4 linked regions of the Homo sapiens genome follow. The protein of the gene in region 2 purifies or fractionates together with the protein of the main gene of each other region. This does not show direct contact. Each region holds a gene or a part of one and is shown on either strand. Other genes may lie near its edges.

What was found.
Region 1: the proteins of TRHDE (region 2) and EMILIN2 purify together in Homo sapiens (affinity purification with mass spectrometry; 2 studies listed by BioGRID and IntAct, with this or other methods). This does not show direct contact.
Region 3: the proteins of TRHDE (region 2) and FKBP14 purify together in Homo sapiens (affinity purification with mass spectrometry; 2 studies listed by BioGRID and IntAct, with this or other methods). This does not show direct contact.
Region 4: the proteins of TRHDE (region 2) and MANEA purify together in Homo sapiens (affinity purification with mass spectrometry; 2 studies listed by BioGRID and IntAct, with this or other methods). This does not show direct contact.

What each region holds. Positions count from the first base shown.
Region 1 is NC_000018.10:2,891,983-2,899,012, reverse strand, and holds part of EMILIN2 (EMILIN-2 precursor), read right to left. Parts: coding exon 6,527-7,030; intron 3,132-6,526; coding exon of another isoform or gene 2,992-3,131; exon of another isoform or gene 2,823-2,991; intron 1-2,822. UniProt on the Homo sapiens protein: May be responsible for anchoring smooth muscle cells to elastic fibers, and may be involved not only in the formation of the elastic fiber, but also in the processes that regulate vessel assembly. Has cell adhesive capacity.
Region 2 is NC_000012.12:72,268,409-72,275,382, forward strand, and holds the start of TRHDE (thyrotropin-releasing hormone-degrading ectoenzyme), read left to right. Parts: upstream 1-3,961; 5' UTR 3,962-4,235; coding exon 4,236-5,149; intron 5,150-6,974. UniProt on the Homo sapiens protein: Specific inactivation of TRH after its release.
Region 3 is NC_000007.14:30,010,078-30,016,723, reverse strand, and holds the end of FKBP14 (peptidyl-prolyl cis-trans isomerase FKBP14 precursor), read left to right. Parts: intron 1-1,830; coding exon 1,831-1,989; 3' UTR 1,990-6,137; downstream 6,138-6,646. UniProt on the Homo sapiens protein: PPIase which accelerates the folding of proteins during protein synthesis. Has a preference for substrates containing 4-hydroxylproline modifications, including type III collagen. May also target type VI and type X collagens.
Region 4 is NC_000006.12:95,601,529-95,608,558, reverse strand, and holds part of MANEA (glycoprotein endo-alpha-1,2-mannosidase), read right to left. Parts: intron 3,733-7,030; coding exon 3,656-3,732; intron 2,812-3,655; coding exon 2,154-2,811; 3' UTR 1-2,153.

The sequences.
Region 1 (7,030 bases), on a different chromosome or scaffold from region 2:
TTCAAGGCTAAGATGCAGTAGAGCAGCTGCGGTTTACACGAACCAAAGGGCATCGTAGAAACCTGGTGCCTACAGGATAAAGGGGGCGAGTTGTCAGGAGTTCCCTATGGCCTGAATATAAGCAATTTATTGAGCCTTTATATGTTTATAAAACTCTAAGTCCATCATGCTACCTTGGGCCTAAACTCTCCCCAAACTCAGCTGATTTTGAGTTGGGGCAAAGGGGTCAGAATGTTGGCATCAGGCAGTGCCCTGGCCAGGCTTTCTGGTTAAATAGTTATTTGACAAGGCTGTGCTTTTTCATTCTTATAGCTTAACTCAATAAAAATAGTACGCTTAAACCTGCAGCACTCCTAAAAGAAACGCTATGATGAAAATTACTCAGAGACATGAGCAGAAAGGGGTGGGAGAGCAGAAAAAGGAAGTGATGCCATTATCTCTAGTGTGCTGAGATCTAAGAGACATCTGTCTCTACTTGGAAGCGTGACATCTGGAAAGAGAAGTCCCCTGCACACAGCTACGTCCCTCTGCCTTCCCTTCCTGCTCGCCACCAGCACCCCTTCCTTCCTCTACCGGGAGAGGAACAGTGGGAAGGCAGGGTCCAGCTGAGGCTCAACCTGTGTGTGGGGCCAGGGGAAGCTAAAGCCAGCTGGGGAGGGCGGGCTGCCCCATTCTCCACATGCTGCTGCCACTGGGCTGCAGGCCGGGCTAGTCCTGGGTCCCAGGCAGGGAGTCAGCCTCTGCTGGTCACCCAGTGCCTGGGAGGCAGACCCTGTGGCCAGGACACACCCCCACTTGTGGGGATACCTGTGAGTAATTCCCTATGAATCACTCATGGGTCACTCAGACTCGAGTGGGGGTAAGGCTGGGCAACTTGGGAAAAAGGAACAAAAGAGGATGCCTGCTGAGAGAGTGTGAAGGCCTGATGCTCCCCGCACCTGTGAAAATGGGAGCGAGTCCATCTGGGAAGGAGGGCTCAACTCCGTGGCTACACTGCATAGGGAATAAAGGGCCTCGAGCCTCCTTTCCATTTATAACCTAATTTGTTCATAAGTGATGAGATTCTGCTCAAAAAAACTATCGATACACGAGATACATGAAGCTGTGAATGCTGAAAAGGGAGATCTCTAGGCTTTTTTTTTTTTTTTAAAGAGACAGGATTATGCTGTACTGCTCAGGCTGGAGTGCAGTGGTGTGATCATAGCTCACTGCAGCCTCAGACTCCTGGGCTCAAGGGGTCCTCCTGCCTCAGCCTCTCAAGTAGGTGGAATCACAGGTGCACATCACCACACCCAGCTAATGTTTAATTTGTACAGACAGGATCTCACTGTGTTGCCCAGGCTGGTCTTGAACGCCTGTGCTCAAGTGATCCTGCTGCCTTGGCCTCCCAAAGTGTTGGGATTACAGGCATGAGCCACCGCGCCCAGCCATTTCTAAGGCTTTTTATACTGTCTATTTGAACGCTAATTTTAAAAACAAGAAAAAGGGAAAGCAAGAAAAACAAAAAAACCTGTGGCCACCTACAGCATCACCGGAGCCACCAGGGCCCTTCACCCTGTGTCTGCTGTGTTTACAGGCCCTCTCTCTTCCAAGGCTGGAGGCCTGGGGGTTTATAGGTAGAGAAAGGGAGAAAAGTTCAGTCATGAATAGATTAAACATCCATTCTAGGGTATGGAGGGTTTAAGTAATAGGTAATTTTCCTGAGTGATTACTAAGTCCAGGACATTAGTTAATCCTCCACTGTTTACAAGCATGGATGAGCAGGGATTTCAACGGAAGTAATCACTCCCCAGCTCAAAATCCTTCAATAGTTTCTCACGGTACTTAAAATCCAACTCCTTTATCACAGCCTAGAAAGCCTGCCTGATCTCATTCCTACCCTCGCTTTGACCTCATTGCTGATGACCTTCTGCCTTGCTTATACGCTTGGCCATACCACTATTCTGGGTTTTTCAAAAGAACTTCCTCATAGCCTTTGAGAATGCTGTTCCCTCTGCCTGGACCATTTTCTCAAAAGTATATATTTTTTTGTATTTTTTGTAGGGACAGGGACTCCCTGTGTTGCCCAGGCTGGTCTCGAACTCTTGGGCTCAAGCGATACACCCGTCTGAGCCTCGCAAAGTGCTGGGATTACAGGCGTAAGCCACTGTGCCCAGACTTGTGGACCTTTTGTCTCCCGACCCCCATCTCCAAAAAAAAAATTGTCCAGGTGCACTGGCTCATGCCCGTAATTCCCAGCACATGTAATTACAGCACATGCCTGAATCCCAGGCTGAGGCAGGCGAATCACTGGAGTCCAAGAGTTTGAGACCAGCCTGGGCAACATGGTGAAACCCATCTCTAAAAAAATAAATAAATAAATAACAAAAAATTAGCTGGGTGCGATGGCACGTGCCAGTAGTACTAGCTACCTGGGTGGCTGAGGTGGGAGGATCACCTGAACCTAGGAAAGTTGAGGCTGCAGTTAGCTGTGATTGCACCACTGTACTCTAGCCTGGGTGACAGAGCAAGATCCTGTCTCAAATATATATATATCTGACCGGGTGCAATGTCTCATGCTTGTAATCCCAGCACTTTGGGAGGCTGAGATGGGTGGATCACCTGAGGTCAGGAGTTCGAGACCAGCCTGACTAACATGGTGAAACCTTGTCTCTACTAAAAATACAAAAATTAGCTGGATGTGGTGGCAGACACCTGTAATCCCAGCTACTTGGGAGGCTGAGGCAGGAGAATCGCTTGAACCCGGGAGGCGGAGGTTGCAGTGAGCCAAGATCACGCCACTGCACTCCAGCCCCAGCAACAAAGGGAGACTCCATCTCAAAAACAATTATATATATTTATTTATTCATTATATATATGCAATATATACATATGCTATATATATATATGCCCTTAACAGAAGGATATAAAAGAGACTTAGATCTATTTAAGCATCAGCTGAAGGCCCTTCTTCTCCCCTGTTGGCTGCTTCTTGGATAATTCAGCCTCACCTCAGTGATGCTTCCAAAGGAAACAGGATCTGTGAAGAGGGCAACAGGCTGAGTAGAAACACCACAGTGTGTGTTCCCGGTCTGGCGATCTGCTTACTGGTCCAAAACCATCACACATCTTCACCTCTGGATCTGTGCTCACTGTGGTAGATATCATGACCACCATTAATCCCCCTTCCCTCCCCAAACATACCAGCCACGTCACCCTTCAAGAGCAGACCTGCTTTGACAATAGAATGTGGCAGTGATGCCACTCCAGCTCTGGGCTAGCCTGTGGGAGGCCCAGCAGCTTCCACTTTCCCTTGACAGTCGCCATAGTCTGACTACTTGACACCGCCATGCTGTGAGGAAGCCCAGGTTGGCCACATGGAGAGAGGGGCCAGGTGGAGGAGCACCGAGGCACCAGACATATGACTGAGTCTTCACAGACCTTCCAGTCAACCGCAAGCTGAATGCAGCTGAGTGGGCGACTCAAGCTGATGCCACATAGAGCAGAAGAACCGCTGAGCCAAGCCCTGCCGGGGTTCCTGACCTACAGAATAATGGAAACTAATACATCTTTGTTGTTTTAAGCCAGCAAGATTTGGAATGGGTTGTTATAAAGCAATAAATAGCTAATCCACAATGTCCTCCCCTCCTGCTTTCTGAATCCCACCCATCCCTCAATCAGATCCAGTAACACCTCCTCCTGGAAGCTTCTCTCATCTCACCTTATTCCTCACCCCATCAGCCTCTGTACTCTGCTCGGTAAATACCTACACTGAGGGCTCAGCTCAGGGCTCTCTCCTGAGAATCCCTCCCTGACTTCCACTGTGGGTGCTTCTCTGAACACTCAAGGTGGCTCATGCACACCACACCCCATTCCTGTGACCATCTGTCTGCTTGTTTCCCCATCAGACTTTTATCCACATACTCCCCCACACAGCCATTACCTACCACATAATAGGGGCTCAGTAAGAGCTTATGAACTAAAGGGATAAACTGCTATGCCACAAACAATCTCATTCATCTCTCTGCAGACCTGTGAGTCTCTTTCCCACTGTGATTGCAAATGCTTTAGAATAAGGATTATGCCTACTTATCTCCAGGTCCCCCAAGAGCCTTGCACATCGTAGGCACTCAATAAACATTCTGTTGACTTTTAACTGATTGACATGTCACTTTCATTGTGACCTTAGCTCCAGATTCTCCCATGCACCTCTGATACTCAGGTTCCAGGTCTCCTAGACCTGGATGCTAGACAAGGGCAGAGGAGGCTCTGCTTGTTTATTTCTGGCTCTTTTCCAATCAATGAAATTCTCAAAACTCCATGCAGTCTACACTCACCACAATGAGTTCAGTCCAAAGGGATAATGTTTTGTATGGCACATTCTCTTTTAAAAGAATTCACCCCCCAACTCCTACTGCAACAGACAAATGCGAAAATGTTAACACAGCTTCCCACGCCACCAGGGAGTTCCAAATCAACTGGAAATATCTGATTCAACCTGTTATCGTAAGACACAGACCAGACAGCGTTGTCACCACAAGGGACAATCATTCTATGAACACATACATGGTCTTGTGACCTCTACTCAACATTCCAGAGATAGAGGAGCTGAGTGGCCCTGGAGTGGGGGAAGGGCTGGGTTATAAATAGTGAGGTGCAGTGGGCTGGACACTCGGGTGGCGGCCAGATTCCTGGTCCTCCTGGGCCTAGGTGACTCGTCATCTGCAAGATAAGCACAGTGCTCTGGGGACATCCAGGGCATTTTCCCACCTACCTCGGACCCTCTCCACCCTCCTGAGCTGCCAGGACCTGGCCCTGGCTCTCCCTGACCAAGCCAGAGCTCGCCTGCTTCCCACGTTCTAGCCTACGCTGCCTTGGGTTTTATGTCTCATCTGGGACTTGATCATAAAATCCCAAGGTTCACAGAGGCCATGAAATCTCAGTTCCTTGTGCAAGGGCCTGTGTCACCCAGAGCGGAACCAGGTCAGGGAGGTAAAAGTCCCAAAGGCAAGGATGGGAGAAAAGAAAACAGGGAGGGGGAGGTCAGGAATAGGTTCCTTCTAGCACAAAGCAGGCCCCTCAACAAGTCCCCATGGACCAAGTAAGTCTGCACTCAGTTCTGGGAGACACACAGTCATCATGGCTGGACTGCAAGAAAACAATTCTTGGACGCAGCCTGGCCTGGTTTCCATCCTGGCTCCCCCACTGAACAGCCACATGACTTTGGGCACATTTTCCCTGTTGGAAAACAGCCTTTCTGTGAGGCCATGATAGGATTCAGTCCCCCTGAAGTGACCAAGCCAGTGCTGTACATAGAAAGTGTTCAAAAACGCGAGCTCCCTCTTCCTTCCTTTCACGCCCAGACTCCGACTAGAGAGGGCTAGCTTATGTCGGAGGCTGTCTCAGAGTACAAACCCAGGTACAAGAGAAGCTCTGTCCTTTGAGAAGGCTGCGTTTAGCACCCACAAGTAACAAAAAAATCTTATTACATATATTATTCATTCATTCACATTCATTCATTCAACAAACATTTGTTGAGTGCCTAAGGTGTAGCCAGCATTGCTCTCAGCACTACTGCTGAGCTTCCTGGATGCAGGCACTATGGAGCTTTAGATACTTCCTGTCCCTAAACTGCTCTCATCCACGGTCCTGTGTCTGGAAACAAATATGACAGCATCCTATCTGCCATCAGCTAAGCCCTGAAGATGATAACGACACAGATAAAAAGTGATGCTTGAAGAGAGGTACGTAGGAGACTCCCTAGGTAGAAGAGAGGACAACACCCACTGCCCCAAGCTGTTATGCCAAAAATCTGACCCCAACTCTGAGCTCACCAGCCTGATTCTACAGATAATATTTGGCTATCCATCTGTGGGAAGAACCAGTTTTCCTTTTTTATTTTCAATGTGTTGTGAACTGATATTTTTGTAAATTACGTAGATCATGTGCTTAAATACTGCAATGTTGTTTGTTTATTTATTTGAGATGGAGCCTCACTCTGTTGCCCAGGCTGGAGTGCAGTGATGCAATCTCGGCTCACCTTAACCTCTGCCTCCCAGGTTCAAGCAATTCTCCCACCTCAGCCTCCCGACTAGCTGGGACTACAGGCGCGTGCCACCACACCCAGCTAATTTTTGTATTTTTAGTAGGGACGGATTTTCGCCATGTTGGCCAGGTTGATCTCGAATGCCTGACCTCAGGTGATCCACCCTCCTTTGACTCCCAGAGTGCTGGGATTACAGGCATGAGCCACTGCAACCAGTCTGTCAAATTATTTTAGAAGTTCCTAAATATTAACACTGAGAATATATATTTATCTTATTGCTACTCAGCACCAGATAATTCAGGCACCAATCTATGAACCACATTTGGGTAGGACTGATGGCATTTAGTTCATTCCGTGAACTGTCCAAAATCTAGCATAATACTGTCACATTTTTACCTCATGAAGTTTCAACAATATCAAAAATGAACAAAAAATTATTTTTAAAATGTTGTTGCGTGCTGCAAAGAAATACAAGAAATAGAATTGTAATATTCAACTTACTTGCTGATGGCTGAAATTTGACCAGATCTTGCAAATCAGTAGAAATCTGGAAGACGTGGCTGTAGAACTGCTGGACTGAATTCTTCAGGCCAGAAATGTCTCTGGAATGCGACCTGAGCGTTCCGTTCATCTGCCTGACACAGTTCCACAGGCTGCTGACATGCTTGTTGAGCCCCTCCTTGATCCTCTGAAGATTTCCTGAGATAGAGTCCAGCTTGCTGCAAGTTTTCTCCATATGAGACACCCTGCCCTCCACCATGGAGACCTCCCTCTGGACCCCCTGCGTGCATTCCTTACAAGCATCCAGCTCCGAGATGACCTGGCTCTGCAACCTCTGCCACCTCTCCTCCAGCTGACTGCAGCAATGAGCCACGGGGTGCTGGGGGGACGGCAGGGTGTCCACTGTCCTTTCTTGCTCACCCACCTTAGTGAACCTACCCATGCCAGCGTTTTCACCTGCTCTACAATTGCTCATTTCCTTTTGAAGATGAGTCACATCATTTT
Region 2 (6,974 bases):
TCTGTACTGTATATTTTTCACAGAAGTCCAGAGCTGAAAGATACCCCCAAATCTAACTCCTTTACACTAACATATTGAGAAATTGAGTCCATTAAGTACTGGGTTAGGACAATAGAGGAAGATGAAGGTGATCAGGATCTAGTTCTTTCCCCCGAGCCAAGCTGTTTCTGGACATGAGGTTTTACTCACATGTGAAGAGACTGAGTACCCGAGGACACCTAACTATGTGCTTCTATATACAAACCAGTGTGAAAAGAAACAAAAAAGGCAGTTAAATTGTAAACAATCAAATAGTAAGACCCTGGAGCCAATACATTCACTGAAGATAGTTCATTTTGATCATTTCAGGACCAAGGTGTAGATTTTATTAAAAACAACTTCTGTTTGGCCTCATGTATATTAAATATTCAGACAATTTTTACTTTTACAAGCCCCTGAATCAAATATGGCCACATCATGACTTTAGTGATATTTATTAGCTAAATAAAGTAATCATAAAATTCTCCTAACAAATAAACATGTTTCTGAGAGAAACATCAGGTACTTTAGGAAGTTTAATTTCCTTGTTTACAGCACCACATGGTCCCAGTATTGGTAAAATCAAACCTATCTTGAATCCAGTGACCTATAACACTGAAAGCAACCTTAAAAAGGAATATTAGTAAACTATGTCTTTATTTTTGTGAGGTGCGAACTCTGAAATTTCACCCCCCCACTTTTGCTTTGAAGGTAGAATGGACATTCTCTAGAAAAAATAATATTTAAAAATTATTTTACTAAAGTGCTTGCTTCTTTGGGAAAGCGTGCTATATATTTTCAGAAATTAAAAAAATAAAACTCACTGAAGACCTTTGTAACACTGATATGAAAGGAAGAAATATTTACCTACTTGATCTTGATAGTAAGTTTTATTATGCAAAGTTACATTTAAGGGGAATCCATGAGCTAGTAAGTTGTGTCCATTCTATATTAATAATCTTATGTCCACTCCACTTGGGTCTGAAAAAATAATCCATTTACTAATTTAATCACAGTTAGTAGAGACTTTATTAATTGGTAAATGTATTATTTAATTCTGAAATATTTGAGACTTTCCTTGTAGTAATTTTCAGAAGTACATAAACACATTAGTGAAATACAAAGAAGAACAGATGGAGGTAAAGAGAGGAAAGAGATAACAGACTGAGAACCGTGAGTGAGGGAAAGGGGAAAGATGAAGAGAACTGGGTTAAAGGGTACAAACACACAGCAAGACAGAAGGAATCTGGCTGTTCACTGTTTGAGAGCACAGTAGGGTGACTATACCTTGCAAAAATGTATTGTACTCAGGTGATGGACACCTTAAATACCCTGATTTTGATCACTACATATTATGTGCATGTAACAAAATTTCTCATGTATCCCACAAATTTGTACACATTTTTAAAAAAAGACAAACAGAAAAAGCCTTCTTTGAATCTTTTCTTGACTAATGTTTTAGAAAGAGAAAGTCTTAAAGATCCCTTAGTGGGTAACCTCTTCCTTTAGGCAGTGGGTCTTAGACTCCCCGGGATGATTCCAGAAGCCTCTGATAATCAAATGTACTCAATCCATGGATATTGGATCAGTAATACTAAATTACCAGTTTAAAACCCTAAAGTCAGAGAAGTCTGGTGACCTGCTGAGGATCGCAGGGCTCCTCTTACTTGCTTGCACTATAGTTCCTGATTCTGTGAAAACAAACCAATGAACCCCAACTCCTCAACTCTTAAAATGCATACAGCCAGATACATATGGACAGCAAGAGTACAGACATTTAAAAACAGAGCAGAAAAAAGTAACTTGAACAGAATGTGGCATTTCCCTTGGTCTGTTGCTAACGGCCCACATACAACATGCTTAAAAAATCCCACCCTGGCACTTATTTTCATCATCATTTAAAAATGATTCAAATGGACATTTAGAATGCATGGCATTGAGCATGTATCCCATCTGGGGATAAATGAAAAAGGGCTTCCTCGAGCAGGGCTGTGTTTTTAGTGGTTATCAAGCTAAGGTTAATGTGTAATTGGTCTCTTCTCTTTGGTCATGCTTTTAAAGCCAAACACAATATTTTAATTGTCTATTTTCAGTACTCCAAAGCCAGAAGCATTAACCAGTTCTTTTTGTAAGAAAATAGCTATGGACATGATTTGTAAAATGCCTTCAAGATTTGAAGACATGAAAGAAACATGTAAAAAGGAATTACCTAATTTTCTATTATTCACTTTTTTAATTAACCCAGAAGCCAATCACACTTTGTTTTACTAAACACTGGAGACTCCTGCTTCCTAGATGTCACCTTTGGGGTGGCTGTTTTCTGAATATTGTTCCAATTAGAGTTCTTCGCACAAATTCTGAAGGTTGGATATCCCACATACTTATACATACTCTGCAGTATAATTTTAAACTCCAATATACTCAGACAAGAGTCCATAACCAGCCAATGGGCTATGAACCTATTTTGATGCTGCCTGCTGTCAGCAAACTGGTCTATTGATAACTATCCTAACAAAGTTAAAACAATGTTCATGGTAACACTGGAAAGCTGCAAGAAAGTAATTATGGCTAGGTGAAATGAAAAACTGACCAATCATGGAATGTATTCGTTCACCGTTCTAATAAGCCCAGCTTTTCTCAGTCTCAGGGTTTTGGTCCTGAATGTTACACTGTAGACATTGTGTGTTAATCGTTTCTCCAATCTAAAGATGGGAATTATCCTATGGGGAAAACATCACCTTGCTTTGGCCTTTACTTCCGGAGGATTTTAATGCTTCATTGCTAACATTATTTTAGTACTGCACACCTGGACACATCGCACAGTATAATGTAATATATGTAGTCAGGTTTTGGAGAATTTATTTCAATTTACATACAATCCTCCAAATCCTCTGGCGAGCTTGATGTGAAATCTGACACAGCCACATCTCCCTAGCAGGATCTTCTTTTGCTCTCTATGTTAATAGCCAAAGGCTCCAAGGATCTCTCCCTGGAGCGCGGTGGGGCTAAGGAGTCAGGAAGAGGGGTGACTGCGGGGCTTGTTGCGCTGAAGATTTACAATGTACTTCTTGCAGGCGGCTCAGCAACCCCCTCTGTGGCTGTGGGTGTCTGGTGTGACAGAGCGGAGAAAAGCTCTCTAATCTCCCAGTGCCTGCCTCTGCCGCTCAGTCGCTCCCCTCCCTCCCGCCTTTCCTGCCTCCTCGCGCGCTCCCTCTCCTTTGCCTTTCTCTGGGAGTTTCAGTCCCTCAATGCAGCTGGAGTAGCCCTGGCAATCTAAACCCGAAGCCTGTGTATATACACACACGCACACACGCGCACACACATGCACACGCGCTCGGACATACGCACTTCGGCTCTCCCCCTTGGGATATGGAGCAAACCCAGAGCTTCATCTACCTGAAGGGGATGGCCCGGCCGGACACTTCTTTCTCACTTGTCATCTCCGGAGGGCAGAGCAAGACTGGAATGAGGGAGTCTCGCTGTCGGGTCTGCAACCTCCTGCCGTTTGCCGCCACCGCCGCTTAAAGTGCCCAGGGTGGAGAAGGCTTTTCCAGGACGGATCTCCGTCGTAGCTTCGCGGCCCTGGGACTTCCTCCTGCTGGTTCACTCTAGTCTCTCCCACCTCGGCCATCCTTTTCTCTCCAGCTGCAGGGTGTATGGCTCGGGTGCCTCCCGTGCTGTGGCCGCCGTCACTGCTGCTGCGAGCACATTCCACCCAGAGGACCGAACGCCGCCGCTGGAGTGGGGGGAGAAAGCGAAAGCCCTAACTTCCCTCTCTACACCCTCGCTCTTCCCACCGCTCCCGTCCTTCTCCCTAGCCGAGAACCGGTTGGAAGGCTCCCGCGGAAAGCGAGGCGAGAGCGCGGCGCAGGGGAGGGAGAGCCGGGAGCCGCAGGCGCGCAGGGGCGGGGGCAGCATGTGCCCCGCCGCCGGGTGCTCGTCCGAGAAGTAGCGCGCGCTGGGCAAGCAAGACGCTTTCCAAGTTGGGCGCGTCCCAGAGCTCACAGCCCGGTGTCCAGAGTGAGGCGGGGCTGATGGGGGTCGCGGAAGCTGCCGTCGCTTGTGTCCAGAACCCGTCTTAAAAGAACCCGGGCCAGCATCCCCAGTCGCGCGCCCTCGGCCCGCGTGAGCTCTCCGATGCCTGCTCTGGCTGTGGCCCGGGTGGCCCGCCCGCGGGGGGTGCCAGAGGGGGCGGGGGAGGAGGAGGAGGCGGTGTGATGGCCCTGGACGGCGAGCTGGGGGAGCAAGAGGAGGAGAAGAAAAAGAAGAAGAAAAAGAAGAGGAAGAAGAAGAAGGAGGAGGAGGAGGAGGAGGAGGGGGCCGAGAAGAGCAGCTCACCCTTCGCAGCCGCGATGGGGGAAGACGACGCCGCGCTTCGGGCTGGCAGCAGGGGGCTCTCCGACCCGTGGGCAGACTCAGTGGGAGTGCGACCCCGCACCACGGAGCGCCACATCGCCGTACACAAGCGGCTTGTGCTGGCCTTCGCTGTGTCCCTCGTGGCATTGCTCGCGGTCACAATGCTCGCTGTGCTGCTCAGCCTGCGCTTCGACGAGTGCGGGGCGAGTGCCACGCCAGGCGCCGACGGTGGCCCCTCAGGCTTTCCGGAGCGCGGCGGCAACGGGAGCCTCCCTGGATCGGCCCGGCGCAACCACCACGCAGGCGGGGACTCCTGGCAGCCCGAGGCGGGTGGGGTGGCCAGTCCGGGGACCACGTCGGCCCAGCCGCCGTCGGAGGAGGAGCGGGAGCCGTGGGAGCCGTGGACGCAGCTGCGCCTGTCGGGCCACCTGAAGCCGCTGCACTACAATCTGATGCTCACCGCCTTCATGGAGAACTTCACCTTCTCCGGGGAGGTCAACGTGGAGATCGCGTGCCGGAACGCCACCCGCTACGTAGTGCTGCACGCTTCCCGAGTGGCGGTGGAGAAAGTGCAGCTGGCCGAGGACCGGGCGTTCGGGGCTGTCCCTGTAGCCGGTTTTTTCCTCTACCCGCAAACCCAGGTCTTAGTGGTGGTGCTGAATAGGACACTGGACGCGCAGAGGAATTACAATCTGAAGATTATCTACAACGCGCTCATCGAGAATGAGCTCCTGGGCTTCTTCCGCAGCTCCTATGTGCTCCACGGGGAGAGAAGGTATGGAGGGAGGCGGTGCCCCGCGCTGCCCCACCCCGGCGCGCGGCTCGAACCTCTGGGCGGCCTGCGACCCCGGGGACCCAGCTGGCTTCCAATACCCGGGAAGCCAGGGGTGGGGGGAAGGAAACGAAAGCGGAGTAGGGCAGTCAGAACTCCGGGGTCTCCCAGATGCCTCGGGGTCTCGCTGCCGCCAACTTCGCAAACTGACTCACCGGTGCCAAAAGATGAATGCTGCCCCCTCCTCTAGTCGGGACCTCTCCTCTTCCTGTCAGAGTTCCTTAGCCATCGAAACGCAGGGCTCTTTTTCTGAAGGGTAGCTGATAATCTGAGCGATGCCAGAGTGACATGAAAAGCTTGCCAAGTTACTGTCGAGGGAAAATACGTGGCGCTGAAGGCCAAGACAACAGCGCATCCAGGTTAGCATGTCAGGGCAGGTCAGGGACACACCGTTCTCCACCCCCACCCACAACATGCCCATCTTCCCTGACTATTAGTCTCCTGCCAGGTGCAGAGCAGAGGATGGGCTTTGGCTGCGTCAAGTTTCCCCAAACTTCAAGTTGAGATTCGGAGTGAAAAGAGTGGTTTCCAGAGATAGGCTGAGAGGACCGGGACGGGGGTGGAGGTTGCCAAGGCCAGAGCCAGCGATAAGTGGCCTCGCGGGCGCTGCCAGCTCTGTGCTAAGGCAGGGCGACTCCGGTTGTTTGTTTATGAGTTGCTGCCTCTGGAGATGATTCCAGTGGCCAAGCGGTGGGAAAGCTAGTTGTCAGTCTCAAATGCCTTGTTAGTGTCTTTGCCGCGTTTTACATTTGTGTAGTTTTGTATTTTTATAAAAAATTTCCGAGAGGCCGTGGAGCTTTTCACCACTTGTTTAGAGCTCAGACCTCATAATCCAATAGAACTGAGTTCGAATCTCTGCTGTTCATCTAACTCTGGTGGAGGTTTGAGGAAGGTAATTAACCTTTTCCTGACATGACTACTTCTAGTGCTTATTGCACGCCCATGTACTCAATCCGACAAGAACCCTATGAGGTAGACGCTATTATCAGCATTCCCTATTTTACAGGTGGGGAAATGGAGGCACAGGTGTGTCACATAGCTTGATCAAGATCACCAAGAGTGAGCAGACAAAGCACGGATTTAGACCCAGGGAGTCTGGCTCTTGAGCCTAGACTTTTAATTCTAACTTGGGGATACCAATAATAATATTCTACTTGTAGGATTGGTGTAGACGTCTATGAGTGAATGCATTACAAAGTACTTACCCCTGTGCCTGGCATATAGAGTATCCACCATAAATGCTAGCTCTCATGAGTGTCTTGTGGCAGTAAGCTCTCAGGTATATTGTTGAATGAATAAGTGATTCTTGTTCTTTGCTCTAATTCCCACATTGCTAAGATAACTTAGATTAATTAAATGACTGAGGGCAGATGAACAACCAAAGTGAGCTTAAAAATTAAACCAACAACTTTAGAAGAGGAGGCAGGTTACAGATCAGTAATGAGGCAGAGCCTCTCCTTTTCTCAGGTGATTCTCACAACAGCAGAAAATGGGCTCGGAGAAGCCCAGGGCCCTGGAGGTGAGCAGGCTTGTCAGTGGAGAGTTAGGACTTGAACTTTGGTTCTCTAATCCCTGGACCAGACAGAGCTTATGGTGTTTGGAAACTCTCAGAAGAAGTTATTGTGTAAGAGGCTGGGGAAATTGCAATGTGTTGTGAAAGTAAGCAAAAGTTTTATTATTTATAGAGTTCTATGAAGTAACCTCCTATAAATAAAATGCCCAATGCTTTAGTAGCTGTATGATAGTTAAAACCTCCTATAAGTGAATG
Region 3 (6,646 bases), on a different chromosome or scaffold from region 2:
TTTTAAATATCTGAATGAAATGAAAATGGAGTCCGGGCATGGTGGCTCACACCTGTAATCCCAGCACTTTGGGAGGCCAAGGCAGGCAAATCTTCTGAGGTCAGGAGTTCGAGGCCAGCCTGGCCAACTTGGTGAAACCCTGTCTCTACTAAAAATACAAAAATTAGCCAGGCATGGTGGCAGGTGCCTGTAATCCCAGCTACTAGGGAGTCTGAGGCAGGTGAATCGCTTGAACCTGGGAGTTGGAAGTTGTAGTGGGCCGAGATCGTGCCACTATACTCCAGCCTGCGTGACAGAGCAAGACTCTATTTCAAAAAAAAAAGAAAAACAAAAAAACAAATGAAAATGGAAAATTGTAGTCTAGGCACTTATCAGACCTGACTTTCTGAGATTGAAAGGTTGTGATTAGACTCAATCTAATCACATGATCATAACCAAAACCCAAAAGACCCACTACTTGCAGACATTTATTCAAGTCAAAGATGCCACTATTTAATCTAGTTTTAAGAGAAGTGTCCATGGGGTGCAGTGGCTCATGCTTCTAATCCCAGCACTTTGGGAGGCTGAGGGGTTTAGATTGCTTGAGCCCAGGAGTTCAAGACCAGCCTGGGCAACATGGTGAAACCCCATCTCTACAAAAAATATAAAAGCCAGATGTGGTAGCACATGCCTGTAAGTCCCAGGTACGTGTGAGGCTGAGGTAGGAGGATTGCTTGAGCCTGGGAGGCAGAGGTTGCAGTGAGCTGAGATGGTGCCACTGCACTCCAGCCTGGGTGACAGAGCAAGATTCTGTCTAAAAGGCCGGGCGCGGTGGCTCACGCCTGTAATCCCAGCACTTTGGGAGGCCGAGGCGGGCAGATCACGAGGTCAGGAGATCGAGACCATCCTGGCTAACACGGTGAAACGCCGTCTCTACTAAAAATACAAAAAATTAGCTGGGCGTGGTGGCGGGCGCCTGTAGTCCCAGCTACTCGGGAGGCTGAGGCAGGAGAATGGCGTGAACCCGGGAGGCGGAGCTTGCAGTGAGCCGAGATTGCGCCACTGCACTCCAGCCTGGGCAACAGAGTGAGACTCCGTCTCAAAAAAAAAAAAAAAAAGATTCTGTCTAAAAAAAGAAAAGAAATGCCTAGTATTTAGATTCAGATTAAGAACAAGTAGTATGCTCTCATTGGGTATTCTCCAATAATATAAGCCCTATATGAGGATTGTATACATGACATAAGCTTTATCTCTGCCTTTGAGCAATATATATATAGAGAGAGCTATATATATATATATATTTTTAATTTTTTAATTTTTTATTTTTTTGACAGAGTCTCACTCTGTTGCCCAGGCTGGAGGGCAGCAGCGCAATCTCGATTCACTGCAACCTCTGCCTTCCAGGTTCAAGCGATTCAACTGCCTCAGCCTCCTGAATAGCTGGGATTACAGACGCATGCCATCATGCCTGGCTAACTTTTTTTTGTATTTTTAGTGGAGATGGGCTTTCATTATGTCGGCCAGGCTGATCTCCAACTCCTGACCTCAAGCAATCTTCCCACTTGGGCCTCCCAAAGTGCTGGGATAACAGGCATGAGCCACCACACCTGGCCCTGCCTTTGAGCAATATTTTGTGTCTCCACTTTAGCAGTTTAGCAACAGTTTTTTTAAGGGAAAAAGTTTCTATTATTTTTTAATTATCATTAAAACTATGTCATAAAATGGCTGTTTAGAAGGTATTATATTTAGTTAATGAACTAAATATAATAACAGTCCATGTCTGTGATATTGATTGGCTCAATGTGGGTATCTTATGAATCCAAGTTATTAATGGGATCTGTTATTTTGTAGGTTAAAGCATATTTAAAGAAGGAGTTTGAAAAACATGGTGCGGTGGTGAATGAAAGTCATCATGATGCTTTGGTGGAGGATATTTTTGATAAAGAAGATGAAGACAAAGATGGGTTTATATCTGCCAGAGAATTTACATATAAACACGATGAGTTATAGAGATACATCTACCCTTTTAATATAGCACTCATCTTTCAAGAGAGGGCAGTCATCTTTAAAGAACATTTTATTTTTATACAATGTTCTTTCTTGCTTTGTTTTTTATTTTTATATATTTTTTCTGACTCCTATTTAAAGAACCCCTTAGGTTTCTAAGTACCCATTTCTTTCTGATAAGTTATTGGGAAGAAAAAGCTAATTGGTCTTTGAATAGAAGACTTCTGGACAATTTTTCACTTTCACAGATATGAAGCTTTGTTTTACTTTCTCACTTATAAATTTAAAATGTTGCAACTGGGAATATACCACGACATGAGACCAGGTTATAGCACAAATTAGCACCCTATATTTCTGCTTCCCTCTATTTTCTCCAAGTTAGAGGTCAACATTTGAAAAGCCTTTTGCAATAGCCCAAGGCTTGCTATTTTCATGTTATAATGAAATAGTTTATGTGTAACTGGCTCTGAGTCTCTGCTTGAGGACCAGAGGAAAATGGTTGTTGGACCTGACTTGTTAATGGCTACTGCTTTACTAAGGAGATGTGCAATGCTGAAGTTAGAAACAAGGTTAATAGCCAGGCATGGTGGCTCATGCCTGTAATCCCAGCACTTTGGGAGGCTGAGGCGGGCGGATCACCTGAGGTTGGGAGTTCGAGACCAGCCTGACCAACACGGAGAAACCCTATCTCTACTAAAAATACAAAAGTAGCCGGGCGTGGTGATGCGTGCCTGTAATCCCAGCTACCCAGGAAGGCTGAGGCGGCAGAATCACTTGAACCCGGAGGCGGAGGTTGCGGTAAGCCGAGATCACCTCCAGCCTGGACACTCTGTCTCGAAAAAAAGAAAAGAAACACGGTTAATAACATATAAATATGTATGCATTGAGACATGCTACCTAGGACTTAAGCTGATGAAGCTTGGCTCCTAGTGATTGGTGGCCTATTATGATAAATAGGACAAATCATTTATGTGTGAGTTTCTTTGTAATAAAATGTATCAATATGTTATAGATGAGGTAGAAAGTTATATTTATATTCAATATTTACTTCTTAAGGCTAGCGGAATATCCTTCCTGGTTCTTTAATGGGTAGTCTATAGTATATTATACTACAATAACATTGTATCATAAGATAAAGTAGTAAACCAGTCTACATTTTCCCATTTCTGTCTCATCAAAAACTGAAGTTAGCTGGGTGTGGTGGCTCATGCCTGTAATCCCAGCACTTTGGGGGCCAAGGAGGGTGGATCACTTGAGATCAGGAGTTCAAGACCAGCCTGGCCAACATGGTGAAACCTTGTCTCTACTAAAAATACAAAAATTAGCCAGGCGTGGTGGTGCACACCTGTAGTCCCAGCTACTCGGGAGGCTGAGACAGGAGATTTGCTTGAACCCGGGAGGCGGAGGTTGCAGTGAGCCAAGATTGTGCCACTGCACTCCAGCCTGGGTGACAGAGCAAGACTCCATCTCAAAAAAAAAAAAAGAAGCAGACCTACAGCAGCTACTATTGAATAAATACCTATCCTGGATTTTAAAAAAGAAAAAAATATATATAATTTTATTTTAAATTGGCTTTTATCTTTAATTCTTTTTTTTAAAGTTATCAAATCTTCATTTTCTAAGAGTAGCCCTTTATAGTGTACAAAATGATATTAAGTGCATTATTATCTTCGCTTTTCATGGCTCTGAGTCATAAAACAAGCTGGTGGATCTCACTGTACCTAATTTATAGACGAGGAAATTGTCATTCAAAAAGATTGACTGTTATGCCCAGGGTCAGCACTAACCTGCAGAACCAGTATTCAGTCCCCAAGTTCAGTGTCTTCTACTGCCCTCTACTAATGAAAAGTGAAAATTTCCCTGGGGTCTAATTCTCTCTTCAGTTTGCTGTGCCGTTGTTTATCTTTGAGTCTTCATTCTCTGAAGATGGCTTTCTGCCTGTTTCTGGTACATTAGAATTCTCACTATGATATAGAAATGGCTTCAGTTTCATAGCATAATCTTGCAGTTAGCTCTGAATTGCCTCAAAAACCCTGAACAACGCGAGGTTCCAGATGTGTTTTACTTCTTTCATTCATATTTACCCCCATTTGTTGTTTAAAAAGAATTATGAACAATTATTACATCATATGTAGACCACTTTCACTGATTATATGTTGACATTTTCCTCAGTAAAACATAAAGTTCTTAACAAGACTATACTGTAACACCTTTCTCCAACAAAATCAGCTGTATGTTGAAAACTATTAAGTCATTGCTAATGTTTTAAGCCATAATACAGACAGCCTTATACTCTATGATGGGAGAAGGGAAAGTAGTTTGTCCGATGGTGCTACTCTGTATAAACATTACTGATGCTATCTATAGTAGGGCAAGAAAAGTAAAAAGAGTTTTGATTATTCAGGCAGCATTTTTAAAAACCTGTGAATTTGTATCAGTTCTCATCTAAACATTTGGACACAAGTATAAAATGAAAACATATGCACAAGTTATGGTTTTTAAGTTATCTGCTCTTTTTTTTGGTTTCACTGTACCTTTGTACTCTTCTATTAGTGGGAATAATCAGACATGAACTGTGACTTCACATGTACAGTCATACCTCACTTAATGATGGAGATGCACTCTGAGAAATGTCTAATTAGGTTATTTCATCGTTGTGGGAACATCATAGAGTGTACTTACACAAACCTAGATAGTGTAGCCTGCTACACATGTAGGACATGTATATAGCCTATTGCTCCTAGGCTACAGCATGTTGCTGTTCTGAATCATGTAGGCAATTGTAACACAATGGCAAGTGTCTGTTTATTCAAACATCTAAACACAGAAAAGATACTACAACAATAACAATATGGTATAAAAGATTTTGTAAAAAATCTGGTCAGGTGCAGTGGTTCACGCCTGTAATCCTAGCACTTTGGGAGGCTGCCTCAGCAGGTGGATTGCTTGAGCCCAGAAGCTCAAGACCAGCCTGGGCAACATGGCGAAACCCCGTCTCTGCTAAAAGTACAAAAGCTGAGGTTGGAGGATCACCTGAGCCTGGCAAGGTCAAGGCTGCAGTGAGCCATGATCATACCACTGCACTCCAGCCTGGGTGACAGAGTGACTCCCCATCTAAAAAAAAAAATATATATATATATATATACTATATATATATATATACCATATATATGGTATATATATATATAGTATATATATATATGGTGTGTGTATATATATATATATGGTATACCTGTATAGGGCACTTACTAACGGAGCTTACAGAACTGGAAGTTGCTCTGGATGAGTCAGTGGTGAGTGAATGTAAAGGCCTAGGACATTACTGTACACTACTGTAGACTTTATAAACACCGTACACTTAGGTGACACTAAAATTTATAAAAAATGTTTTTCTTCTGGTTGGGCATGGTGCCTTATGCCTATAATCCCAGCATTATGGGAGGCCAAGGTGGGTGGATCACTCGAGGTCATGAGTTTGGGACCAGCCGGGCCAACATGGCTAAACCCCATCTCTACTAAAAATACGATAATTAGCCAGGTGTGGTGGCACATGCGTGTAGTCCCAGCTAATTGAGAGGCTGAGGCAGGAGAATTGCTTGAATCCAGGAGGTGGAGGTTGCAGTGAGCCAAGATCGAACCACTGCACTCTAGTCTGGGTGACAGAGGAGCAAGACTCTGTCTCAAAAAAAAAAATTCTATAATTTTTATAGAAATAATAAAAAACTAACCTTAGCTTACTGTAAATTTTCTAGTTTAGAAACTTATTTAAAAACAATTTTTGGACTCTTCTAGTAATAACGTAGCTTAAAACACACATTGCATAGCTGTACAAAAATATTTTCCTTATATCCTTATTATATAAGCTTTTATCTATTTAAATTTTGAATTTTTAAACTTTTTGGTCAAAAACCAAGACAAACACACTAGCCTAGGCCTATGCAGGGTCAGGATCAAGACATCCCTAGCAGGTGACAGGAATTTTTCAACTCCATTATAATCTGTGGGGCCACCATCATATATATATTGTACATTGACCGAAACATGGTTACATGACTATATAATTTGCGTCAATACTGCTCAGTGTGCCATATTTAAATTTACATGACTATATTGTGATATTCTTTTCAAAATAAAGTTTATTTGGGAGATAACTGATTTTGTGAAAAATTCTTCAACACCAATTTCCTCAGCAGTTGTACTGATTTTCTTACCTGTTATTCTAAATTTTATACCAAAAGTGAGGAAGATGGACAGGTAGTGGAAGGAGAGGGGTACAGTGACACTTTGTGCCTCTGATTATCTGCTCTGTATAGGTATATTTGTAAGAAAAGCTGTGGTTTGATTTAAATTCTTTTGAAATATGCATTAAGTCTTGACCTTTAGCATGATAGTTAATAGTTAATTCTTAGCACTGAAGAAAGTGTTTTTGGTTTTTCGAGGGGGAGGAGGGAGGGTGATGGTTATTATCACTGTTGTTTTGGTTTAGGGTTTTATCGTGTGTAGCAGGTGGACACACTGATTTATGCCTACTGCGTAAATCAGTGCTATAAAATACCCTCTGATTAAACGAAATGCGGGGTTGCCATGAAAATAACGAGAAACAATGATTTCTGATTCAGATGAAGAATCTAGCCATTTGGATCTTTCCTTATGGAAATGA
Region 4 (7,030 bases), on a different chromosome or scaffold from region 2:
TTTATCTTACTCTGAAATCTGTTACTGCTGGCTGGTTAGGGTAATGTGTTGAGGAATCACAACAAAGCTCAGAGATGAAGTATGCTGTGTGGATTCACCATGTCTATAATGGGAAAAAGAAAGTGGTGGTATCTGTGTTGAGAATATGCTAACCTTGTTTTTATAGATTTTCCCTTAATCTCATAACTATTTCCTAAAATTTACTTTCTGTCATGGTGGGTTCAAATACACAACGTACACAATGACAAAAACTCCTCTGTGGTAGATACTTCTCTAACAAAACTTTAATGAAATATGGTATATTATAAAAGATTATTAGGTGTGACATTTGTAAATTATACCTAAAATAATATATTCTAGTTAAATGGACATAAGAAGAAAATCCACAGGTTGGATCTATATAGTGATTACCATGTAAGTGCTTGCTTGTATCAAAATATCAGTATAGTGATTTATTCTTTTATTTTCCCCTAGAAAATGATTACTACTACTGTATTAATTTCCTAAGGCCTGATCATTCTCTGAGAAATGGCAAATTCCAAAATTTTAAATAAATTAAACATTAATAATGCTTTTCAATAACATAATTTGTGTCAAAACCACTGTTTAAAAATAAAATAAATTTTGTCATCTGGTCTATTTTATAAAAAATTTAGTGCTAATTTTTGTTTCTGAATGGATGTCTTTATACTCTGAAGATTTATAGGCATTATTTTTTAGCATTATTCTATTGCTCTTCTTAATGGAACACCTAAGAAATAACATTTATGTAATAGGATATATATTAATTTTTTACTATAGTTATAAACATTAACTGTAAGAATACAGTGCATTTTATTTAGTTTTTAAGGAGATTTATTTTTCGTACACAAGTGATCAATTTGTCACAACATGACAAGTTATTGATAACAAGTATTTTAACTTACAGGTATGATAAAAGTCTAACATTTACAAAATGGGGATATTACTATATAAAAAATTGAAAGTATTAGTTTTTATGTAAAATATTAGTTTCTTCATTCTGATACAGTGCTAAACTTAATGTAAAGCCAAACTTCAGGACCTACTCTAGACATAAAATAATTTTCATTTCCATGTCTCTAGAATCTAAAATGCTAAGTAAATTTTCTCTATTACTTTTCGTCAAAATAACTTAAAGTATTAAAAGACAACCTAATGACAGTAATAACATTTTTCTTTCCTAAAAAATATTTGGTATCTGATTTAAAGACATGAATAACACAATAGTAACAACTTAAAGATCGACAAGATATACTAAAAATGATATTTGGGCATCATATCTACATAATAATTGTGAAACAACTGTTTTCCTAATAACTGAGAAGCAATCAGTAACTTTTTCATAAAAGGACTTTCATAGCTTCTAAAATATGGAATTCAGCACTGTAAAGCAGAAACACTAAACATGTCAAAACACCTAGCGTGGTATAGGTAACCACAAATCTGCAAATGACACACTGTGCTGTAGATAGCAGGCCGTCCTAACACAATTTGGTCATGGTAAGGTTTAATTTATGTAATTAAATTAAATAAAAAATAAGAGTATTAATTTAAAGCCATTTCAGGTTCACAGCAAAATTGAGAGGAAGGTACAGTGATTTTGTTATTCTTAAGAATTTCCTCATTATTGTAGAGTTATCCAGAGTCTAAATACTAAGACAATAAAGTTGATTAAATTATTTTAAAGACATGACATGAAGCATGTACATTATCTTTAAGGGGTTTTCTTTTTTTCTTCAATAGATATCCCAAATATACACACAATCCTATTTATTTGGGTCTAGGATGTAAATATAATTTAACTGTGTGCTAAGTGCTTTAGGTAGCACAAGCATTTATCTATTGTAAAATGAAAATTCAATTGCCATCAAATCAGAATTTTGATTTCAGTCAGAAATGCAATAAATTATGCCATAAGGAATATATTTGTATACATTTTGTCTCAGATATTTTCTCATGTGGTATTGTGAAGGGTAACAAGTATAATATTATCTGTAAAGAATTTAAAAAAATATTTTTAAATATAACTAATAGTATATACTGATTTTGACAGTTTTCTTTCCAGAACTCAAAACGAAAGCTATTTTTAAAAATTAGGTGATTTTGATAACTATTAAACTTTAATCAATGCATTAAGAAACAGGCAGCTGGCGATCTAATGCATAAGTTGCTCTTTCCTTACTGTATTTTTCAGACCACTTGCGAGTCAGTTCTAGGTAAAGACCTGGTTTATGAGGACGGTAATCTAGGTACACTGTATTACTGGTTCTTTTGGGAACAGCTTTTTCAATCTGAGTTCCTTCATGCCACTCATTAAAAGAGGTGATAGAAATTAAGCTGGGGCGTGTCTGAAGTGCGGCACTCAGACCAATTTCATAATACTTCCCATTGATTCGGTTCCGAGTGTTTTGCGTGTTCCATGGACGGATGCTGGTATCTATGTATCCTGGGCCCACACTTGGGATAAATATTAAGTTGTATTTATCACAAAATAATTTTAGGCTAGCCCAATTCTGATGTGATGAGCCATAAGTAAAGCCATTTGTGGCAAAATATGTGTAAATTCCATCAAAACCACTTTGAAGAATATCATACTTATGTTTTTCTTCTACCAGAAGGGCAATAAACAGTCCATCATAAGGAGAATTGCGAATACTCCGAGACCCTGAGGTGGTTAACAGATTGGCCCATTTTTCAGGCTTGGTAATATAGGAATCATAGACATAAAACATAGGAAGAGCATTGCCAGTCTTCGTCTTGTACCTGTAAAAGGCCGGATGATTTCCATATCTAGAAAATAAGCATATATAAAAGTGAAATGAATATTCACAACTAATTTGCCACAGACAAAAACTGTTTACTGAAAATGAAGGAGTCAGTGCAGTTTGAGCACACTGCTCCATTTCTTAGGGGAATCAGTTGTGTAAGTGTAATAATTAAAAATGCATTTTTAATTTTACACATTAGAAAATGAGATACTGGATGCATTACCAAACAAGTATTAACCATCTCATATTGAGGTTTACAAATGATGACTAATGCCATAAAAAGCCTATGTCTCTACATTATAAATAATACTCTACATAATACCTAAACTGCTTTTTTATCTATCAGTGATAAATGTTCTACTGTTGCTGACAAGTTTCTTTGTAAGACTATGGCATCTGTCACAGACTATTATCAGTAAAATTCTTTCAAAAAATGAAAACTGTATTAATAAATTCTTTTTGATCAGGCTAGATATAAATGAAAATATCAGCTCTGGGTCTACTGTGTTAAAAGAAGTAGTTCACTTTTAATAATCTGAACCTTCTTTTTAAAAAGATAAAGCTATATTCTGAAGGTTTAGAAAATAATGTCATTTTAAAATATCAAAACTACAGAAATCATAAATAGCCTATAAACCTGTAAAACAGTAAAAACAGCAATCTTCCAAAAAGAAAGTGAATTATAAGAAACTTCAGCAATGTTCTTCGAAATGATGGTGACATTCATTACAATAACAATTTAATTTTATTAAAAATGGAATAATCATAAATCATTCAAATCTCAAATATAATTTAATGTACTATTCTTAAAACAATAATTATCACTGGATAATATAACAATATTTATAAATATTGAAGAAACTCACTTGTCTATAATATACTTGACATTTTTGTACATGTTTTGATCATCTCGATTGCTATATGGTTCTATGTGAAAAGTAACCTAAAACAAACAATAAAATCAGTTAGGGGATAAATTATCTATAATGTAAAATTAGAAGTATACTTAATATATTTAATAAAGTAACTGATTTAATCACCTTAATTAAAGATGAATATTTATTGAACACAGAAACTACCAGAGAATTTTTACCAATAAAATTTACTGCTAAATAACATGCTAAACATTTTATATTATTATCTTGGTTAATCTTCACAACTCCCTAAGGTATTTCTGTTTTCTTAGTGAGGTAATCAAAGATAGACAGAACCTTAAGAAAGGTTCAGTAAGTTGTTCCAGGTCACCCAGTTTGTTGGAGGTAATATTGATGATCTGAATTCCGAGTTCAAATGCTTAACTGCTGTGCAATGCTTCTTTTTATGTTTACTCCTTATAAAAATGTTTCTTACATATTTGTATCCCATATAATATATATAGGAAATACTCTATATTCAGATATATGTTTCTTTTAGGAAAAAGACCAAAAAAATATGGTCCAGAAAAATCTGGATTTTTTTCAGGCATGTGACCATTAAGCTTAAATTTAAATAGAAGTCATTAGCAAATTTATTTACATATAAATTCTTCCATATCATTAAAACAGCATTTTACAAAATAATATACATTAACTTCTATTAAAGAATTTATAATGAAATCGCTTAAAAATAATATCCACTAGTGTTATAAAGGACATTTTTCATGATGCCTAGGTATTTATGGTTTGGATATCCCATACACACACACACACACACACACACACACACACACCTACATACATATATACGCACACATACATACATTATATATATATATGTAAACATAGAGAGCAGTAATTACAAATATTTTTAAAATACTGTGCACAGACTAAAATTTTTTAACTTAAGGTTGGCTATACATAAATCAAGACAAACTAATTATGGCTAGTAAAACCATTCTGTATGCTACTTCTAACTAGTAAGGTAAAAAATACAGAAGATACTTCTCTTAGATGACAATCTATTTCAGATTCATAAAACAAAGAATGAGGATTTTCACTTTTATTCCTAGTTTTACTGACTTACCAACATCAACTAAAAATCTTTATGGCAGTCTAATAAATGTATTGATACTGTTTTAATTTTAGGTTTCAGGCTCTATGATGTATTTATGGAACTAGAGACTTCTATTGCAATATGAAACTCCTCTGTTTTCAATTACCCAATTAAAGCAAAATGTATTTTACATTAATCAGTGCTACTTGTTTTCACATAATTAATTTTAAAGTTAAATAATATTTAAAAAAAATATAATTTTCTACTTTAAATGAGATTACAGTAATATTATAAAAGTAAGTTTCTGTCATAAAAAACTAAGGTCAAATTAATTTTTGCAGCATATTGTTAGTATTGCCAGGGTAGTAACTGCTAGGGCAGCTAGATTTCTCAATAACTTTGGTATTTGCTTTTTAAATTCAGTTGAAAGCAAATTGCCTAGTGTATAGGTATTTTCATACTATTACATAATGTTTCCTTGGGTAATTCTTCCTTCAGTTACATCACTGTGTTTTCTAAATTTCCATTTTATACATAAAGGACACCATATTTAAGCAATATCCAACTTGAAATATCCTATATCAAAATGAATTTGCTTTTACAGCTGCAAACAACAAATAGCATGCTATTTTTGTAAAGCGCAGATCAATATATTTAAAGTAAATATAGTATTGATAAGTATAAAATATTTAAAATTTTCCCTCATGTATTTCTAATTTCTTAATTATAATAAAATTACTTTGCAATTTTTTTTTTTTTTTTTTTTTTTTTTGAGACGGAGTCTCGCTCTGTCGCCCAGGCCGGACTGCGGACTGCAGTGGCGCAATCTCGGCTCACTGCAAGCTCCGCTTCCCGGGTTCACGCCATTCTCCTGCCTCAGCCTCCCGAGTAGCTGGGACTACAGGCGCCCGCCACCGCGCCCGGCTAATTTTTTGTATTTTTAGTAGAGACGGGGTTTCACCTTGTTAGCCAGGATGGTCTCGATCTCCTGACCTCATGATCCACCCGCCTCGGCCTCCCAAAGTGCTGGGATTACAGGCGTGAGCCACCGCGCCCGGCCATTACTTTGCAATTTTAATTAATGATGTGATCTAGTCTCCATCTCTCTATTCCATTTGGAAAAATCAATTAGATCAATGTTAAAATAAATTTTAAAATAACAGAATTCTATACATAAAATGAAATGTCTTTCTTATCTTTAAAGAATAAGAATATAAACATTCCCTCATTTCATGTTTTTAATTTTGACCTTTCCTGTCTCTTCCCTACCCTGCATTTTAATAACTTTAATAAATAAATTTTAATAAAATGAACTTTTTTGAATGAAAATCTGATAACTTTCTCCTTCTCCAACTCTATTCTCTACCTTCACCCCTGCACACTCCCCTATCCCCTGCCACAACAAAATTGAGGTAGGTCTTCCTACTCCTATGTGGTGCCATAATACCTCATACTTTTCTCTTCCTGAAATTTACTTGTCTTTGTGTCTGACCTCCAGTAGATTACAAGGCATTTTAGGGAAAGAGATAATACTTCATCCTTCTTCTTAATATTGTCAGCATCTGGGACTGTATCTGACACGTAGCAGGTGCTAAATGAATGAATGCATGCATAAATAAATGGACTAATGATTTGCATGCAAAAACAAACAACAGTTAAACTCTTAAGTCTGTCACTTATACTGGATTTAGGTAAGATTCCCAAAGTTTCTGCCATGAATTCACAATATTCATTTAACAAGGAAAAAGAAAAAGGAGAGGCCATGACTAATATAACATGTTTCAAATGTAGGTGAAAATCATTTAAAAAAGAATCACGGACATACTTATATTCATGTTTCACATGGTTGAAATCTGCATAAGCCTGAAAAGCAGATAAAATGACTCTAGAGCCATATGCAAAGAAATAATGGATGTTGATAAACCTAGTATAAGAAATGTGATTTCTGCATAAAGTAGAAAGAAAATATGCTACTTTAAAATAACATACTAAATTTATTAAAATGAAAGAAGATCACCAGGGCTGAGTTGGTTCTTTCCCCTATAATCCTAAGCAAAAAAAAAAAAAAAAAAAAAAAAAAAATCACTGAATCTGCCTAATTTTCTTTTACTTAGATGAATGATTTAATTCAGTCAAGTTTTGATTAGATAATGCCATGTAACAACCCCACAATCTCAGTGGCTCTAAAAGACAAACATTTGCTTTTCGAACATAAAATCTATGAACTGGCTTATGATGGTTCTGCTCCAGGCTGGTTCAAATCAGCTCCA